Linked DNA regions of Homo sapiens: region 1 is linked to region 2. The links come from fine-mapping of genetic effects on gene expression. Tissue or cell type: whole blood. Region 2 holds a variant in brackets; the other region holds the start of a gene. All regions are shown on one strand. Distances are from middle to middle.

Region 1 (8,097 bases), 75 kb before region 2:
GGGTGGGGTGAAGATTTCTGGGGGTGGCCAGAAATGAGCTTTGGGCCCAGGGGCTGAAAGTCTGTGTCCACCATGCCTCTCCCTGCAGGAGTTAACAAGTGCCCAGCTGGGGCTCTCTGCCGCACCTTTGAGTCCTACTTCCCCACTCCAGCTGCCCTTTGTGAAGGCCTCTGGAGTCACTCATACAAGGTCAGCAACTACAGCCGAGGGAGCGGCCGCTGCATCCAGATGTGGTTTGATTCAGCCCAGGGCAACCCCAACGAGGAAGTGGCGAGGTTCTATGCTGCAGCCATGCATGTGAATGCTGGTGAGATGCTTCATGGGACTGGGGGTCTCCTGCTCAGTCTGGCCCTGATGCTGCAACTCTGGCTCCTTGGCTGAGTTCAGTCCTCCCAGACTACCTGCCCTCAGCTTGGATAACCAGGCTGGGCTCAGCTCAGCTCCCACAAATGACAGCCCCTTAAGCATGCTTCTATTAGTCACCTAACCCTCTGTCACCCAGTCTGTTGCTGCTCCATGGTGGGGCCAAGAGTCACTTCTAATAAACAGACTGTTTTCTAATAATTCCATGTCTGTGGAATTGTTTTGGTTGTGAGTTTGTGGGTGGGTGGGAGACAGATTCTACGGCTTCTGGATTCCTTCAAATTAGAGCAACTAGACCTGTGTTTGAATCCCAGCTCTGCTACTTTGTGAAAATGAAACAGTTGCTTCACTGCTCTAAACCTTTGTTTCCTTCTGGATAAAAAGAGGATAATAGTCCTGCCCTCAGGCTTGTGAAATATACAGGAGCTGTTGCCTAGAAAGCCCGTGAGCCCAGTGTCTGCACATTAATAGTCTTCAGGGATCCTGTTGTTCCTGTTGCCCCAAGTGGGAGCCAGGTCCTGAGCTTATTTGTCTTGGTCTCCAAACAGCCTCCTGGTCCTCCAGCCCTTGTGCCTGGCTCTGTGCTCGGCTCTGTAACAGGAAAGCTGGGAATGGGAGTCCAGGAAAGGATTCAGATTGCCAGTGGGATGAAAAAAATTCACAGTGGGATGAAAAAAACGTGATGCACATTGAAGGAGCAGAGTTGGGGCCTGGGACTCTCAGAGGAAAAACAGAGCCAATTGGAGAGGGCAGTGTAGGGGGTTTCTGGAGTGGAATACTCAAGAGCCTGGAACTGGTTCAGCGCTTTGGTGTCCTGGAGGTGTGGCTGGAAGAGTTAGAAACCCTTAAGGGCTTCCCGGGGTCAGGAGCCTCTGGCACCTTTGTCTCCTCCTGGGATTGGCAGATATGCCTATCTTGAGGGGGTTGCTCTGTCTTTGCAAAGCCCTCGGGAGCTGGGCCTAAGTTATCTCTGGGTCTCCCAACACCCCTTTCCCTTTGGATAAGTCTTTGTTTGCACACTCCTACTACAACTGTCCCCAGAGAGGCCCAGGTAAGTCTCTGAGAACACCCTGCAGGTAGGTGGCCCAGCTAGGACTAGAACCCAGGTGTGCAGACTCCCAGTCCAGGTCTCTCCCCCACTACCAAGGATTCCCCTCACATCAGGCTCATCTTTTCTTATACTAAAAGGTGGCTGATGAGAACGGTGGCACAGATTGTAGGATGAGTTATTGGGTTCTGGAGGCACTGTTGGGTGGGTGGGTGGATCTCTTAGTTATTATATTTATCTAGTGTGGAAGGCCCCACAGAGCCCCTTCCACGTCCCAGGCTCTGCTCCAGCTGGGTTAAGTCAATGCATATTTGAAATAGAGGAAGGAGCTCGAGGGACTGACCCGGGCTCCGTCAACAGGTTCAACGTAGCAAAGTGAAAGTTCTCTCCCAGGTTAAAGGGATTCTCCCACGGCGGCCCAGGAGATGGTGGCGGCGGGCGCCCGGCTGGAGGCCTGCGCCTTTAAGGAGCCAGGGGGCGGAGGGGCGGGGCAGGAAGACGACTCCCCGGAGACGCCGCCACCGGCTAGGTCTTTTTTTGGGAGGGGGCGGGCCAGACCCTTTTATGGGCTCCGCCCCCTTTGCGGCTGCCGCGTCCCCCTTCCGCCCTCGGCTGGAGGGGAGGAAGCTAGGGGGGCGTTGCAGCGGACCCCGTCTGGGAGCTCCCCGCTGGGCGTCCGGCCCGCGGAGGCGCGAGTTTGCTGACTCGGAGGGAGCCGCTGGGGCGGGGGCGAGTGCTAATAATACCCGTTCGTTCCGCAGCCGCGCTTTACAGTTTACACAGCTGTCACCTTCGTTTCTCCTTAATTAATAATAAAAATAGCCGCCGTTCGGGAGCGCGGGCTGGGCGCCAGGCCCGGTGCCGAGCGCGGTACGAGCTCGGCCCCCAGAGCCGGCCCTCGCCACAGGATCCCCATTTTCCAGAGCGGGAAGCCGACGCTCAACCCCGCGCCGCGACTTGCCCGAGGTCACCCAGTGGGCCAGCGGCTCCGGGACCGAGGCGCGGGGCGGGGTGAGGCGAGGCGCGGTGCTGCCCCCGGCTCCCCGGGGCGGCGCGGGGCGGGGCGGGCGGCGCGGAGGGCGGGGGCGCGCGCGGATGGCCATCTTAAGTGGCCGCCTGGAGCCCAGGGCCGCTGTCCGGGGAAGGGGGCGCCGGAGCAGCCCGGGAGGTGGGGGTCTGCGTGCGGCGGCCGGGATCCCGGGAGGGAACTTTCTACTAGACGGGCCAGGGATCCTCCTGGCTTCGGACTGCTGAACCCCCTCAAGGCCCGGCCTGCGGGTGTGGGGGGTGGTGCTGGGGAACTTGGCCGAGAGGGGGAAGGGCTCTGCGGGGCTGGGAGGGGCTGCGTGAGAGGCTCGAGAACGTCGCACCTCGTCTGGGCCCCCCGCCAGAGTAAGAATCTTCAGAAGCCTGGTTAGCCAGGGAATCTCCCCGCAGGCTTTGCCGGGGGACGGTTCCCGTGGAGTTGGGGGTTCAGATCTAAGAGGGGGCTGCATTTCGCAGGAGTTGGGGGCCCCGCCCGCTTGGGTGGAGGGAAGAGGATGGGTAGGGGGTGGTCCTGGATCCTTCGCAGGTTTGGGGAACTCGATGCAGCCAAGCTGTAAGGGGGACGAGAGGAAGAGCCATGGAGTGGAATCAGACCTTTATGGGGCTTAGGGGTCATATCATTGGGAGAACTGAGAAGCGCTGAATTCTCCAGGGGGTGCCTGGATCCCGAAGTGTCGGGGCCAGGATGGGGGGACTCGGATTTCGATGGGGATTTGGGGACTGGATCTCCTCGGGTGAATGATGGGGGCAGGATCATTGTGGGGTCTGGGAGGTCCCGGGCCCTTCGGGAAGGTGGGGGCACCGTCCCCGCAGGAGGAGCTGGGGGCAGGGGCGGCCCGGGCTGCGGGCCGAGCGGAGGGGGAGGGGGCGGCAGCCGGCCCTGCGCTCCGCTCCTGCCCCTCCCCCGCCGCCTCTGAACAAACTTTTCTTTCTCTTCAAGTTGAGGCCGGCGCTGCAGGCAGCGGCGGCTGCGCGGTGAACGAGGCGGCCTGCGCGGCGGAGTGCTGAGTCCCGATCCCCGGCTCTGTCCGGCCCACGGATCCTCAAGCCCGGGCCCCGGGCCCGGCCCCAGCCTCAGCCCTGAGCGTCTCGGGGCGGATGGCGCGGGGCGGCGGGGGCGGGCGGTGCTGAGCCCTGCGCGGGCCATGGCCTCGGCCTGCGGGGCGCCGGGCCCGGGGGGCGCCCTGGGCAGCCAGGCCCCCTCCTGGTACCACCGCGACCTGAGCCGGGCGGCCGCGGAGGAGCTGCTGGCCCGGGCGGGCCGCGATGGCAGCTTCCTGGTCCGAGACAGCGAGAGCGTGGCGGGGGCCTTCGCGCTCTGCGTCCTGTGAGTGGGGCGGGGGCTCCTTGCGGGCTGGCGTGGACCGGGAGCGCGGGCACGGCCGGGTGTGGAAAGGGCCCGGGTGAGGGTTTCTGGGGCGGTGGGACGCCAGACCCGCCTCCACCCCCCAGAGTGGGAGCCTTGGCTTTCTCCTGGGTCTGAGGAGGGACGCAGGGGCACTTCCTGCTGTGTGTCTGGGGGCACTTTCAGGAGCCTTGAGGGTAGAGAATATGGGGTTCTGTGGCCCAGTGTGACTGTGATGACGAAAAATTCGGGCATTCCCCGGCAGACCCCTTCAGGCATCCTCCAGGTAGAAGGGAGCAGGGGAGAGGATGTGCATTCCACGTTGTGTGCAGTCCCGTTTGGATAGGGACTGAGTGGTGAGCAGGAGAGGGAGTCGGGGCAGAGGGACTGACGGGGTGTGTGGGGATGCCTGGCAGCTTCCTTAGGGCCCCTTTCGGTGCTTTGGGGTTCTGCCTGGCCGTGTATGGGTGGTGGGGGCGGTGATGGGTGGTGTAGAGAGGAAGGCTTGGGGAAGCAGAGGCTGAGGCTGTATGGGACCTTGCCATTATTTCTGAACCAATGAGTGAGTGTTTGAGCCCTGGCTCTGGGCTTGAGCCCTGGTTACCTGGCTGCCCTAGCCCTGAGCTATGAGTGCTGAGTGAGAGCAGAGCCAGACTTGGTGCTTCTCTGAGTGGGCCAGGTCCTGTGGCTGTGCCTTTCAGCCCAGTGTGGTTGGTAGTGGTGCTGGGGTGAGTTAGCACTCTTGGTTTTGCAGCCTTCTAGCGGCTTTGTACCTCCTGCCCTGCAGTCTGACATTGAGTTGGCTTCTGTGGGCCCAGTGAGTGGGAATCTGTGGGGGCTGCTTTATTTAGATCAGTTATTTAGATCTTTATTTAGATCTTTCTTAGCTCTGTGAACCCCCTCCCAAACTCCTGTCCCACTGTACCTTCCTTACCCCTTTGTTCTCCTGACATCTTTGGTCGGGGCGCACATTAGCCTAGACCAGGGGAGACCTTTTTTTTTTTTTTTTTTTTTGAGAAAGAGTCTCGCTCTGTTGCCCAGGCTGGAGTGCAGTAGTGCAATCTCGGCTCACTGCAACCTCCGCCTCCTGGATTCAAGTGATTCTTCTGCCTCTGCCTCGCCAGTAGCTGGGATTACAGGCGCTCGCCACCAAGCCCAGCTAATTTTTGTATTTTTAGTAGAGATGGGGTTTCACCATATTGGCCAGGCTGGTCTTGAACTCCTGACCTCAAGTGATCCACCTGCCCCGGCCTCTCAAAGTGCTAGGATTACAGGTGGAGCCACCTCGCCCAGCTGGGGAGACATTTTTAATTGTCACAACTGGGATGGTGCTATTGACATCTAGTGGGTAGAAGCCGGGGATACTGCTAAACATTCTACAGTGCACAAGAGAGTCCCCCACAACAAAGAACTGTGCAATCCAAAATGTCAGTGGTATGGAGGTTGAAAAACTCTAGCCTAGGCAATTGACCCAACAAGGAAGGGGCCCTATAAGTCTTAGCTTAGGCCTCAAGTCTGAGGCCCAGTAGGGGGAGACTAAGGAGGGACAGACTAGGCAGATGAATATCCCCAAGTCCTGCTTCCCAGCCCCCTCTGAGGCATACCCCCTAATTAGGCTGGGGAGGGAGGCAGGTGCTGGGTCAGCTGTTGAGTGGGAGGGGGACAGCTGGGGCCTGTGTCTGGGTGAGGAACATTATTGTCCCAGGAGGGGGAGAATCCTGGCCTCATTGCCAAGGGAGGCTGTGAATGGGGTGAGGGGTCTGTCTGTGAGTGGGGGCTTCAGGTTTGCCAGCTGACTCTGGCTCTTCCCCGCATCTCAAGAGCCTGGGGGTAAGGATCAGACGTGGGCGATCAGACGTGGGCAATATCTTAGATTTGCCAAATACACACATACTTGCTTACCTGTATACATTCCGGGTGTTCATGGATAACATGCAAGACACGCCCCTGCCCCAGCAGGCACAGGCAATCTGACCAGCAAGCTAGGATACTGGCCCTGGCTTCTGCCATGGTTTAAAATCCCAACTCCACCTTTTACTTACTCTGTGGCCTTAGGAAAATCACTTTTATTCTTTGAGCCTGTTTCCTCAGCTGGAGAATGGGGATAATAATATCTGTTTAGAAGTGTGAGAATTAAGTAAGATTTATAGGACACTGGGTACCCAGCGTGTCACAGATAGGATTCAGTTAATGGTATGCTATTGTAATAAACACAGATAGTGTTTGTAATAGTCTACAAAGGAACACCTGGTGACAGACACTCACCCAGCATAAGCAGCCAGGAGAGTCACCTAGGGTGACTCCTGGGTGACTCCTTGGGGAAGCATGCCCTGAGGTGCGGAGGCAGAGGATCTTCCATCCCCCGCTGATTGTGCACCTGGCTCAGCTGCCACCTGCTCAACTGCGGCTCCTGTCTGTCAGCACCCCTCTTGCCCCTCCTTGGCTTGGGGCTCCTAGAGGCCCAGGTCTCCCATGGGGGCCCTCTTTGGTGGGAAGGCCTAGGGTGATGCCCCCACACTCCTCGGCACAAGTGCCCTAGACATACCCGACTCCAGCAGAGCCAGAGAGCAGCATAAACACAGGAGGCATACACACGTGTTAGCACGTTGCCCGTGTGTGCAAATGGGCTAACCAGGCTTCTGAAGACTCTTACTCTGGCGGGGAGCCCAGACTGGTACCACAGCCCAGAGGGGCTGTTTAGACAGCTGTGGAGGCCACAAAAGAGCTCCCTGTTGCTTCTCAGGCCCTGCCCTGTGGTGGGTGTGGAGTCTGTGTAGGTCTGGTGGGGAGACGGGGGTGTTCTGGTCATTCCTGCCCAATAGGCAACACCAGGAGGGTGGAAGTGGACCGGCCACATCATTAACCCTGTGCAGCCTGGGCAGGTGGTTTTAGGGAAACCAAGCTGAGGGGGTTGGGGTGCTGAGCTTGCTGGCAGGAGGAAGGGGTGCTTTGGGTCTTAGACCCCAGCCTGGGGGTGACAGATTCTGGCCCTGCCTTGGCATCAGGTATCAGAAGCATGTGCACACGTATCGCATTCTGCCTGATGGAGAAGATTTCTTGGCTGTGCAGGTAGGAGCTTGGGCCCCTGACCCCTGACCTTGATCCAGCCTAGGGCTTGGGGACCTGCTGGCTGACCCTTCCTCCCACCCTTGCTGGCCCACAGACCTCGCAGGGTGTGCCTGTGCGCCGCTTCCAGACCCTGGGTGAGCTCATCGGCCTGTACGCCCAGCCCAACCAGGGCCTTGTGTGCGCCCTGCTTCTTCCTGTAGAGGGTGAGCGAGAGCCGGACCCACCGGATGACCGGGATGCCTCAGGTACTTCCCAGTGTGCAGGTCCCCTCCCTGCCCCTGTCCCTTGGCTCTACCTGCCTCTTCCCATCCCCCCTTCTCAACCCCACCTCTCCTGTAACCCCCTTTCCCTTGGCCATGATGCCGGGGCCCTTTAACCCTCTTTCCATGGAAGTCACTTTACAGCTGCATCGTGCCTCCTACTCCACTGAGTGTGGGAGGCCCAAACGGCTGCCCACTGACCCCTGCCCACAGATGGGGAGGATGAGAAGCCCCCGCTGCCCCCGCGCTCTGGCTCCACCAGCATTTCTGCCCCCACTGGGCCCAGCAGTCCCCTGCCAGCTCCTGAGACTCCCACAGCTCCAGCTGCTGAGAGGTGAGACCCCCATCCCATCCACTGAACAGGAGACCCTTTCTCCTCTGAGAACTATTTCCCTACCAAAGGTGGGGAGGCCTTCTAAGACCCCACCAGGGACCCCCACCCCACCTCAGCCCAGAGGCAGATAACCTGATCCATCCCGCCCTGGTTGCCACAGGTACTATCTCCTCTAGGGATGGGGCAGAGGTGCTGGGACAGGTCAGCAGGACCTCCACTGACTTCTTAACCCCTCCCCAAAGTGCTCCCAATGGGCTGAGCACCGTCTCGCACGACTACCTGAAAGGCAGCTATGGGCTGGACCTGGAAGCTGTGAGGGGTGGAGCCAGCCACCTGCCCCACCTCACCCGTACCCTCGCTACCTCATGCCGGAGGCTGCACAGGTATCTGGGACATCCAGCCCCATGTATTACACCCTTACCTCTGACCTGTCCTCACCTGCTTCCCGGCTGCACAGGTGCCCTGATCTCTGATCCTGAACAGTGAACTAGCCATTGCCTCTTGACTTTCCTCACTGGTAGCCTTTATCCTTGTGGTGAGGTTGAGGCTACACCCAGCGCCCCCTTCCCTATACTTAGGTCGGGGTGGGAGTTCTTTTGATCTGATGTCTTCCCTAGTGAGGTGGACAAGG
Region 2 (8,100 bases):
GGGACCAATCAGTTGAAGGGTACAGAGCCCCGCTCACTCAGCGAACCTCAAGGGCATGACCGTACAACAGCACTTTATGTCATTTATAACAAAAGCAATGATCAGGGACTCCTTGAGAGCAAGCAATAGAGTGACAATGCCGAACACGGACAGGGACTTCTACTTTCATCACAGATGCTCTGCTTAGTGCTTTTTGTGTACAACCCCACTCCTTCTACTAGGAAAGTGGCTCCTTGACAACAGAGGCTGGGTCTTGTTCATCACTGTGTCCCAGAACAGCGTCCGGTACAGAGTAGGTGTTTGACACCTGCTTGCTGGAGGCTGGAATCTTCACATCCACCCTTGGAGGTAGGTGCAGTTAGGACCCCTACAAAGAAACTGAGGCTCAGAGAGGATCATAACTTGTTCGAGGTTTCACAGCTAGGATACAGTAGAGGCGAGACTTGAACTATCTGACCTCAGAGCCCATGCCCTTCCTCTGCACCAGGCTACAGAGGTCAGACCAATGGTGCTGGATGAATGAGGCCTCGTGCTATTTTCTTTCCTTCGACAGAATTTTCTCAGAATTCTGCCAAATTCAGTTTGATCCTCACTGGAGAGATGCAACTGGGACAGGTGCTAGGGAGGAGATCTACCTGAGATTTCTTTTGGGAAGCAGAGAAAGCACAGCTCCCGCCAAGCCAGAAACCGTGGCTCTGGGGATATACATCACTGACCTCAGCCTGTTGGCTCCTGCCTGAGCCAGGGATGCTGGGCCCTGCCCGAGCTTCAGGGTTAGCCCTTGCTTCTAAAGCCAGTGTAATGGTAAACCCAGTCCTACTCCTTAGGAGCAAAGGAGAAAGGACTGTGCATCAACCGAGCTAGCTTACTGCATGCTGGGTGTAGTTTCCAGCCTTGCTTTCCACTGGACCTTGGCAGAGGCCTTTGAGAAACTGTTAATTCCCAAAGGGTCTATACACAAGGGGCCTGGTAATCCACATCCTGGAGCTGGTCACTCTGCTGTCCCTGCCTTGGGGCAGGAAAAGGGAAGCAAGGGTGCAAGCAGATGTCCTTGAGCTTTTACCAGCAGCTTTTCACTCTTACCCCACTGCTTATGGGTTCTAATCTAACAGATCCACTGAGGGCAGTTCTAGTTTTGGGGACCAGGTGTGTGTGTGTGTGTGTGTGTGTGTGTGTGTGTGTGTGTGTGTGTGTGTGTGTGTGTGTGTGTGTGACATGTCCAAGCATGTGCATATGACTGTGTGTGTGTTCCATACTCACTTTGCAGAGCTCATCCCTAAGGACTGGGTTCACACACTGCTATACTGGCCAGAGCAATAACCTAGCAGCAATTTCATTCTCAGAGATCAAAGCTCTGCTCATAACTGGGCCTGAGGATGGGTCCCAGGTGGGTGAGGGGAGCAGGTGCAGTGCATGACTGACCCAAAGGGTGACTTTCAGTGCTCATGTCTCCTCCTCAGTTTCCTTAGCAATAAAGATGTGTCTCAAACAGGAAGCTGTCCGTGCCTCACCTCCCTCTAACAACCAGAGCGTGCACATCTTGGGTGGGGCTTGAATGCTCACCCCAGGGTTATGGGGCTGCTTTCCCACTGTCTCACGTATGACTCCTTGGTGGGAGGAGTGGGGGCTGGGCTCTCTGGGGACTAGTCTCTTTCTGGGACTTCTGCCCTGGGGTCACCTGTGAGTGGCCAGCAGTAGACCTGCTTGGTGCTTTGATGAGAGCAATAGGGTTCTTACTTTTCTGGGCCCAGGCTTGGGAGAACTAGACTGGGTAGGGGTGAGGCTGCTTCCCTCACACCTCCAGCCTGGATTAGGTGCCCCTACAACTCCTGGCACTTGCTGCTTGTCCCTAGCGCAGCACCGACCACAGTGGACTGAACTACTTTTTAGCTGCCTGTCTCCGCACTCATTGGTCACGCCAAGGCCAGGGCTGCATCTGTTTTGTCAGTGTCCCCTCTACCCCACACAGCGCCTCATGAATAAATGAATGAGCCACATTCTTTTGGTTGGCTCTTTTTTGTTTTTGAGACAGGGTCTGGCTCTGTTGCCCAGGTTGGAGCGCAGTGGTGCAATCTCTGCTCACTGCAACCTCAGCCTCTGAGGCTCAAGCCATCCTCCCACCTCAGCCTCCTGAGTAGTGAGGACTACAGGCACATGTCACTATGCCCAGCTGATTTTTGTATTTTTTGTAGAGACAAGGTTTTGCCATGTTGCCCAAGCTGGTCTCGAACCCCTGAATTCAAGTGATCTGCCCACCTCGGCCTTCCAAAGTGCTGGGATTACAGGTGTGACCCATCATGCCTGGCCTGGTTTTGCCTCCTACTTCTCTGGCGAGTCTGTCTTGACTTCCCTGATAGGTCCCAAGGCTCTGTGTATAGCCCTCTTTTCTCTGCACATTATACACTCCCTGGGTTACAGACCTCATCCATTCCTGTGGCTTCCGTTAACCTCTCTGGGCTGAAGGATTCCTGAACTGCTATTTTCAGTCAGACCTTTCCTAAACTCCTGACCCATAAAACTGATGAACGGCCCCTTGGCCATCTCCATCTGGATGTCCCTCAGGTATCTCACCTTCAACATTTCCACACCTCAGTGCCTCACCTTCCTCTTCAATCTGCGGCTTCCCACTGTGTTCGCCGCCTTAGCTGATGGCCAACTGGCAGCAGCCAACTGGCCACCCTTGGCTCCTCCTCCTCTCCTCAGTCAACCTTCTAGTAGTTTCTCCAGCCCATGGCCTCCCCAGCTGTAGCTTGGGCTCCCCAGCAGTCTCCTTGTTAATGACCCTCTCCCTTCTCATCCATTCTTTACACAGCTGCCCACGGCATCTTTGTAAAGTGAAAATTTGACTGTTTCTTTCTTGCTTAAAGTCTTTAAAAGGCTCCTTACTCTCTACCAGAGAAATGCAAACTTCTGTGCCTGGCATTTTAACTGGGCCCTGTTTACCTTACCTACCTTGTCTCTAGCACTCTGTCCTTGTTTTCCCTCTGCAATCGAGCAGTACTGACCAGCTGCAGTTCCCTGAGCATGCCAGCCTGTTTCATGCCCTGTACTTTTATACATTAGGTTTCTACTGCCAGCCCCGCCACTCTGTTCACCTAGCACTTACTAACCCTTTGAAGGTTTGCTAACTACTGTTGAATTAAAACTACTGTTGAATTAAATTAGTCAATACAACATTTCCCCTGACTTTGTGGGCTCTGGGAATGGTTCAAGTGAACATGACAAGGGCCCATCCTCAAAGAGCCTAAATCGAGTAAACCTGGATGGCAGCTTTGGTCAATGGAACCAAGAGCATCAGAAACTATAGTAGGCTGGGGCTGGGGGAAGGGGCGACAACAGCTGCAGGAAGGAATTCCTATCAACCCCTAAAAGGCAGTCAGTGGAGTGAAGTGACGGAGGAGGGGGAGACAGGGCTTCCATGTATGGCTGATTGTACTTCAGTCAGCAGTTGCCTTCTGTTTTTTGGGCCAAGAATGCCATCAGAGGTGCCTCTCCAGGGAGACCAGAGATCAAACAGGCCGCGATGCTCACCCTCCCTCAGCGGCATGGTCCCGTCCCTTGCGTGCTTCACTGAGACGGACCTCGCTCTTTTGGCCCTAGCTGCGTGGCAGTCATTCAAGCTGCAGGATCTAGAACTGGGCTGCCTGGGTTTGAATCCTTGATTCTCTCTCCCCAGCTGCATGACCACAGGTAAATGACTTAATCTTACTTTGCTTCAGTTTCCACATCTGTTCAATGGAGGCCGTAATAATAGCTAGCTTTGGAGGGTTGTTGAAAGGGTTAAATTGATACACATAAGCCTCTGAAGACAGCGAATGGCACACAAAATGCAAAATGCCAGCTACTACCATGTCTCCTTTCCACCTGTCTACCAGGCAGAGAGCTCCAAGAGGGCACATTCGGGTCTGGTCATAGCTGTGCACTTGAATCCCATCAAGAGGCTGGAATGGAGTAGAGGCCTCAGTGTACACGTGAGTAACTGAGTATGTGACCTCTGAAGGACTGGTCTCTTCTTCCTCAGCAGAGGTTCAGGGGCAGGGAGCAGCTGAAGGGCTAGGAAGATACAACGGAACGGGCAGGGGCAAGGAGGCTGGGCCAGGTGGGGAAGGCAGTGAGCAGCTGGTAGGAGATCTGGATCTGGATCTTCCTGGCTTGGTACCTGATGTGCTGTTCGGTCTGGAGGAGTCCCCTCCCTGTGGCCTCCTATGACATGGGAAGCAAACCACCTTTTTGTTTTCCTAGGGCTGCAGGAGACTAGGTAGAAAGGTGAGCTGGACTCATGGCCAGGTGCTAGCTAATATAGCCCCTGCATGAGAGAAGAGAGGCCTCATCCCCGGTTCAGTCCTTGGCTCCTCACGCTCTCTTGATGGAGCAGGGCCCCTGAAAAGGTGGAAGTCATCTTCTTCCGTGATCGTAAGCAATCCCTCGCCTGGTTCAAGGTAAACAGTGGTATGGGGGGAGAATTGGGGCTCTGGGATCAGACATATCTGCAGCCCAATCTTGGCTCTTTACACAGCAGCTGTGGCCTTAGGCATGTCTTTTATAACCTCTCTGAACCTCAGTTTCTTCATCTGTAAAAAATGAGCTAATTTCTCCCTTGCCTGTTAGGAATTTTTCTACCTACCTTGTGAGGATTAGTGATAATGGCTGTAACGTCTTTAGTACAGGTCTAGTACACAGAAGGTACTGGATAGAAGTAAGCTCTTCTCTCCATTTAGAACTTACCCCTACGAGCAGGGGAACTGGACAGTCTGTGAGAACCCTCAGATTCTCAGAAGAGAAAGGCTCCATGAATCAGAGTATCAGCATCTCACCATTAGCAGCAACAATATTAGCAT[T/C]TTAAAGAACTGCAGGAGACAATGTTTGGCACACAGGGAGGAACAAGAGCTGTCTGAGGCAGAAGGATTTTTGGGGCTTCTCTGATTCAGCCTCCTCGTTTGTCACATGAGATCTCTGATGCCTAGAGATGGGCAGTGACTTGCCAAGGCCACAAAGCCAGTCAGGAGCAGAGCTGGAACTAAAAATTCATGTCTCGCTCTCATGGCACCTCTGCCATACCATGTCTCTCTAGAAGGTGGGCTGAGCAGCCACACAATTTCAACTCTTAGGCAGGGCTGGTCTTCGCTTGAGTGCCCCACCCAGGCCCTAGTGCAGAGGGGCTAAGTTGCACCTACTGGATGAATGAATGTACACATGCGGGAGCAGGAAGCCGAGGAATGACCAGCTAGCCTCTGGGCCCTTGCTTTCTGCTGTTCACAGTCCCCCTTATCTCCAGGTGTCCCCCCGCTCCATCCTGGCCCAAGGTGACTCACCTCATCAAACAGCTGCAGCATGATGGTGAGCACATCTGGATGGGCCTTGTCTACTTCATCAAAGAGCACCACAGCATTGGGGCACTGCTTCAACTTCTTGGTCAGCTGGCCACCCTCCTCATGGCCAACGTAGCCTGGTGGAGACCCAATAAACTTGGCCACCTGGTAGAAGGAAGGAAACATGCTAGGAAGGCCTTTCTGTGCTTTTAGTTTCCAACATGGGGCATGCATGGGAAGATGACTTTATACGCTATTAAGGTTGCCTCTCTCAACAGAGATGATTGGCTGTCCATCTCCTGGTGTGGCAGATAGATCTTCTCTATGTTTATTCTTCAGAGCAAATCCTATGTGAAACAAATCAGTGACCCTGCTGCACACCTGTGCTCCCAACGACAAATCCCAAGGCTGCTGGAATTATCTGAGGCCCAAATGACAAGACCCCGGCAGTCATGCTGACAAGCCCTCCAAACCATGCTTCAATCAAGGACTGTCATCACTCACCTCGTGTCGCTCCTGGAACTCGGACATGTCCAGCCTGATGAAGCCCTGTGTGGAAACAAGCAAGTACCAACTCCGTTTGGAGGCAGGAAAGTGAAGAGAAGGGTTAGGGAGGAGAGCACCTCAACTATCCCCAAGGCTTTCACACCACACCAACATAAGATCTTCTATCTCACGCTCAAGATGTTTTTTTCTGACTTCCTGTCTCCTTTTCTGTGCACTCATTTCCTACGAGTCCCTCATTCTCTTCCTTAAAAGACCCAAATCATGTACCTGACCTTCTAAATCTGACTTGGGGTGTCTTCTTTCAGGGAGGCCTCTCCTGTTCTGATCACCACATCATCCACCCACCCATCCATCCATTCCACGTTTCCTGAGGGCATCCTGTGTGTGCTGGACACCGGAGTTACAACAGGGAACAAGTCTTGGTCTCTGTCCTTAAGAAGCACCCCATCGAATGGTGCAGACATGGACAAAGTCAGTCACGATCAGTGTGGACTGTGGTGCGAGGGAGGAGAGAAACACTCAGATGGCTCCAGAATGCCTCTCAACTCTGCAAGTCTGTGTGATGCCCGTGTCCCTTTGATTTACTTTTCTTCAAAATGAATATATTTTAAAATGTATTTACATTTCTTCATTTCATTAAAAAAGATATCCATAACATAGCTTTACAGCCCTTTTCTCTCCACCACAGGGTGTAGGGGTGATTTCCGAGGAAGTGGCCCCATGGGTGAGGGCCATGGTTAGCCCTTGGGGAAGAGAACAGCTTGCATTATGTGATCTGAAGAGTTAACACAGGCAGAGTGCCCACTGGTTTTCAAGAAGCATTACCTGATTAGGGAGCTGTAAAGGCATCCACAGGTGCCCTGTCTAGCCACAGCCAGGACCACAGTTCCCCACAGTCCCCCGGGCTCCTCTCCTACTGGCACATGCCTCCATCTAAGAGACAGCATTCACTGAATCCTGCTTCTCCTGAGAGCCGGTGATGATGGGGGTGCCAAGATTCTCAGCGGGAGGTAGCTATGTCTGAAATCCAGGGCTATATTCTAGCTTGGCCACTGGTCAGAAATTCACGCCATGATGTACTTTTAGTTCTTTCTCTGTCCTGTCATTCTACAGCTGAGACACAGGGTGGCAAGAAGAACCCTGGGCTGGGAGCCAGGGGGCTCGGGTTCCAGTCCTAGTTCTGCCTGCCTGTGGAGCCTTGGACATGCTGCCTCCCCTTTTTGAGCTGCAGTTTTGTCCTGTGTTACAGAAGGCTCTTGGCTCCTCTCCCTGCCTCACCAGGGGTCTGAGGATCTAATCCAAGAGGTGGGACAGGGCTTAGAGAAGTTATTAAGGCCACATGGGGGAAAGCACTGCTATCAGCACATGGGGCATAAGCCAGAAAGCATTTCCAGAGGGTCCCTAGGCTGCTCAGTCAAGAGATCTGCAGGTTTCAGGATTTACTGGGTATTTACTATGTGCCTGGCAATGTTTTAGGCAAGCTATAAAGGGCTTAGAACATGTACAAGTCTCTGAGGTAAGCACTACTATCATCTCCACTTTACAGATGAGAAAACTAAGTCACAGATTAAAGTAACTTGCTCAAGGTCACCTGCGCTTGGCAATTCAGCTCCAAGTCTGTGCTCTTAGCCATCATGCTACACTGCCTCATAGCTTCCTCTCTGCCAATCAGCTGGGCTCTTGACAGTCTTCACCTTGAAGGGTGCTGAGCTTTGTGTCCAGATGCCAATGAATGTCGGACGACAGATGGACTATAGACTCTCGTGCTTACTTATGTCAAGTGACCTGGGTTCTCACCCTAGTTCTTCTAATGATTTGCTATGTAATTTTGAACAAGTTTTTGGGCTTGACTTTCTTGGCCGGAATCATCATTTTGATTTCACATGATCTTAGTGAGGCAAGAACAATAAGAGTAACATCCAACATGTACTGATTGCTTACCACATGCCAAGAACGGCGTTTAACATTTTACATCACTATCTCATTTAACCTTCCGAACAATCCAGTGAGACTGGCACCATTATGGAGCCTACTTTACAGATGAGAAAGCTGATGTAAACAGAGGTCCTGGCCAACTCCACCTAGTAGAGTACAGTTGGGATTTGAACCCAAGCAGCTGGACTCAGATAGTTGTTCTTTATCCCTTATCATATTGCTACTATAACTAAGTCTTTTGGGCTCCACCACCCTACCTTATGATGATATCACAGAACACCATTAAGGTTCCTTCCCAAGGCTTATTAGCTCTAGTAAGGAAAGTTAACAGAGCCACTCAATTTGGAAG

Evidence for each region. PIP is the estimated chance that this variant, and not a neighbour inherited with it, causes the effect.
Region 1: it holds the start of INPPL1, and the variant in region 2 is fine-mapped to the expression of INPPL1 in whole blood (TOPMed, PIP above 0.99).

The regions. Positions count from the first base shown.
Region 1 is chr11:72,221,382-72,229,478 of GRCh38, forward strand. It overlaps INPPL1 (inositol polyphosphate phosphatase like 1), which reads left to right and starts at 3,386. Exons shown (of 28, transcript NM_001567.4): 1 at 3,386-3,785; 2 at 6,809-6,872; 3 at 6,967-7,117; 4 at 7,346-7,466; 5 at 7,709-7,849; 6 at 8,084-8,097. The coding sequence starts at 3,604. FOLR2 (folate receptor beta) reads left to right here. Exons shown (of 5, transcript NM_000803.5): 5 at 89-569. The coding sequence ends at 381. RefSeq lists silencers at 1,872-2,101, 2,342-2,741, 3,292-3,651, 3,662-3,871 and an enhancer at 5,277-5,636.
Region 2 is chr11:72,296,491-72,304,590 of GRCh38, forward strand. CLPB (ClpB family mitochondrial disaggregase) reads right to left here. Exons shown (of 16, transcript NM_001258392.3): 10 at 5,814-5,858; 11 at 5,313-5,474. LOC124902708 (a long non-coding RNA gene) reads left to right here and starts at 3,473. Exons shown (of 3, transcript XR_007062766.1): 1 at 3,473-3,690; 2 at 3,876-3,971; 3 at 4,243-6,471. RefSeq lists an enhancer at 4,708-5,907. The variant T/C (reference allele first, on the strand shown) is at 4,839.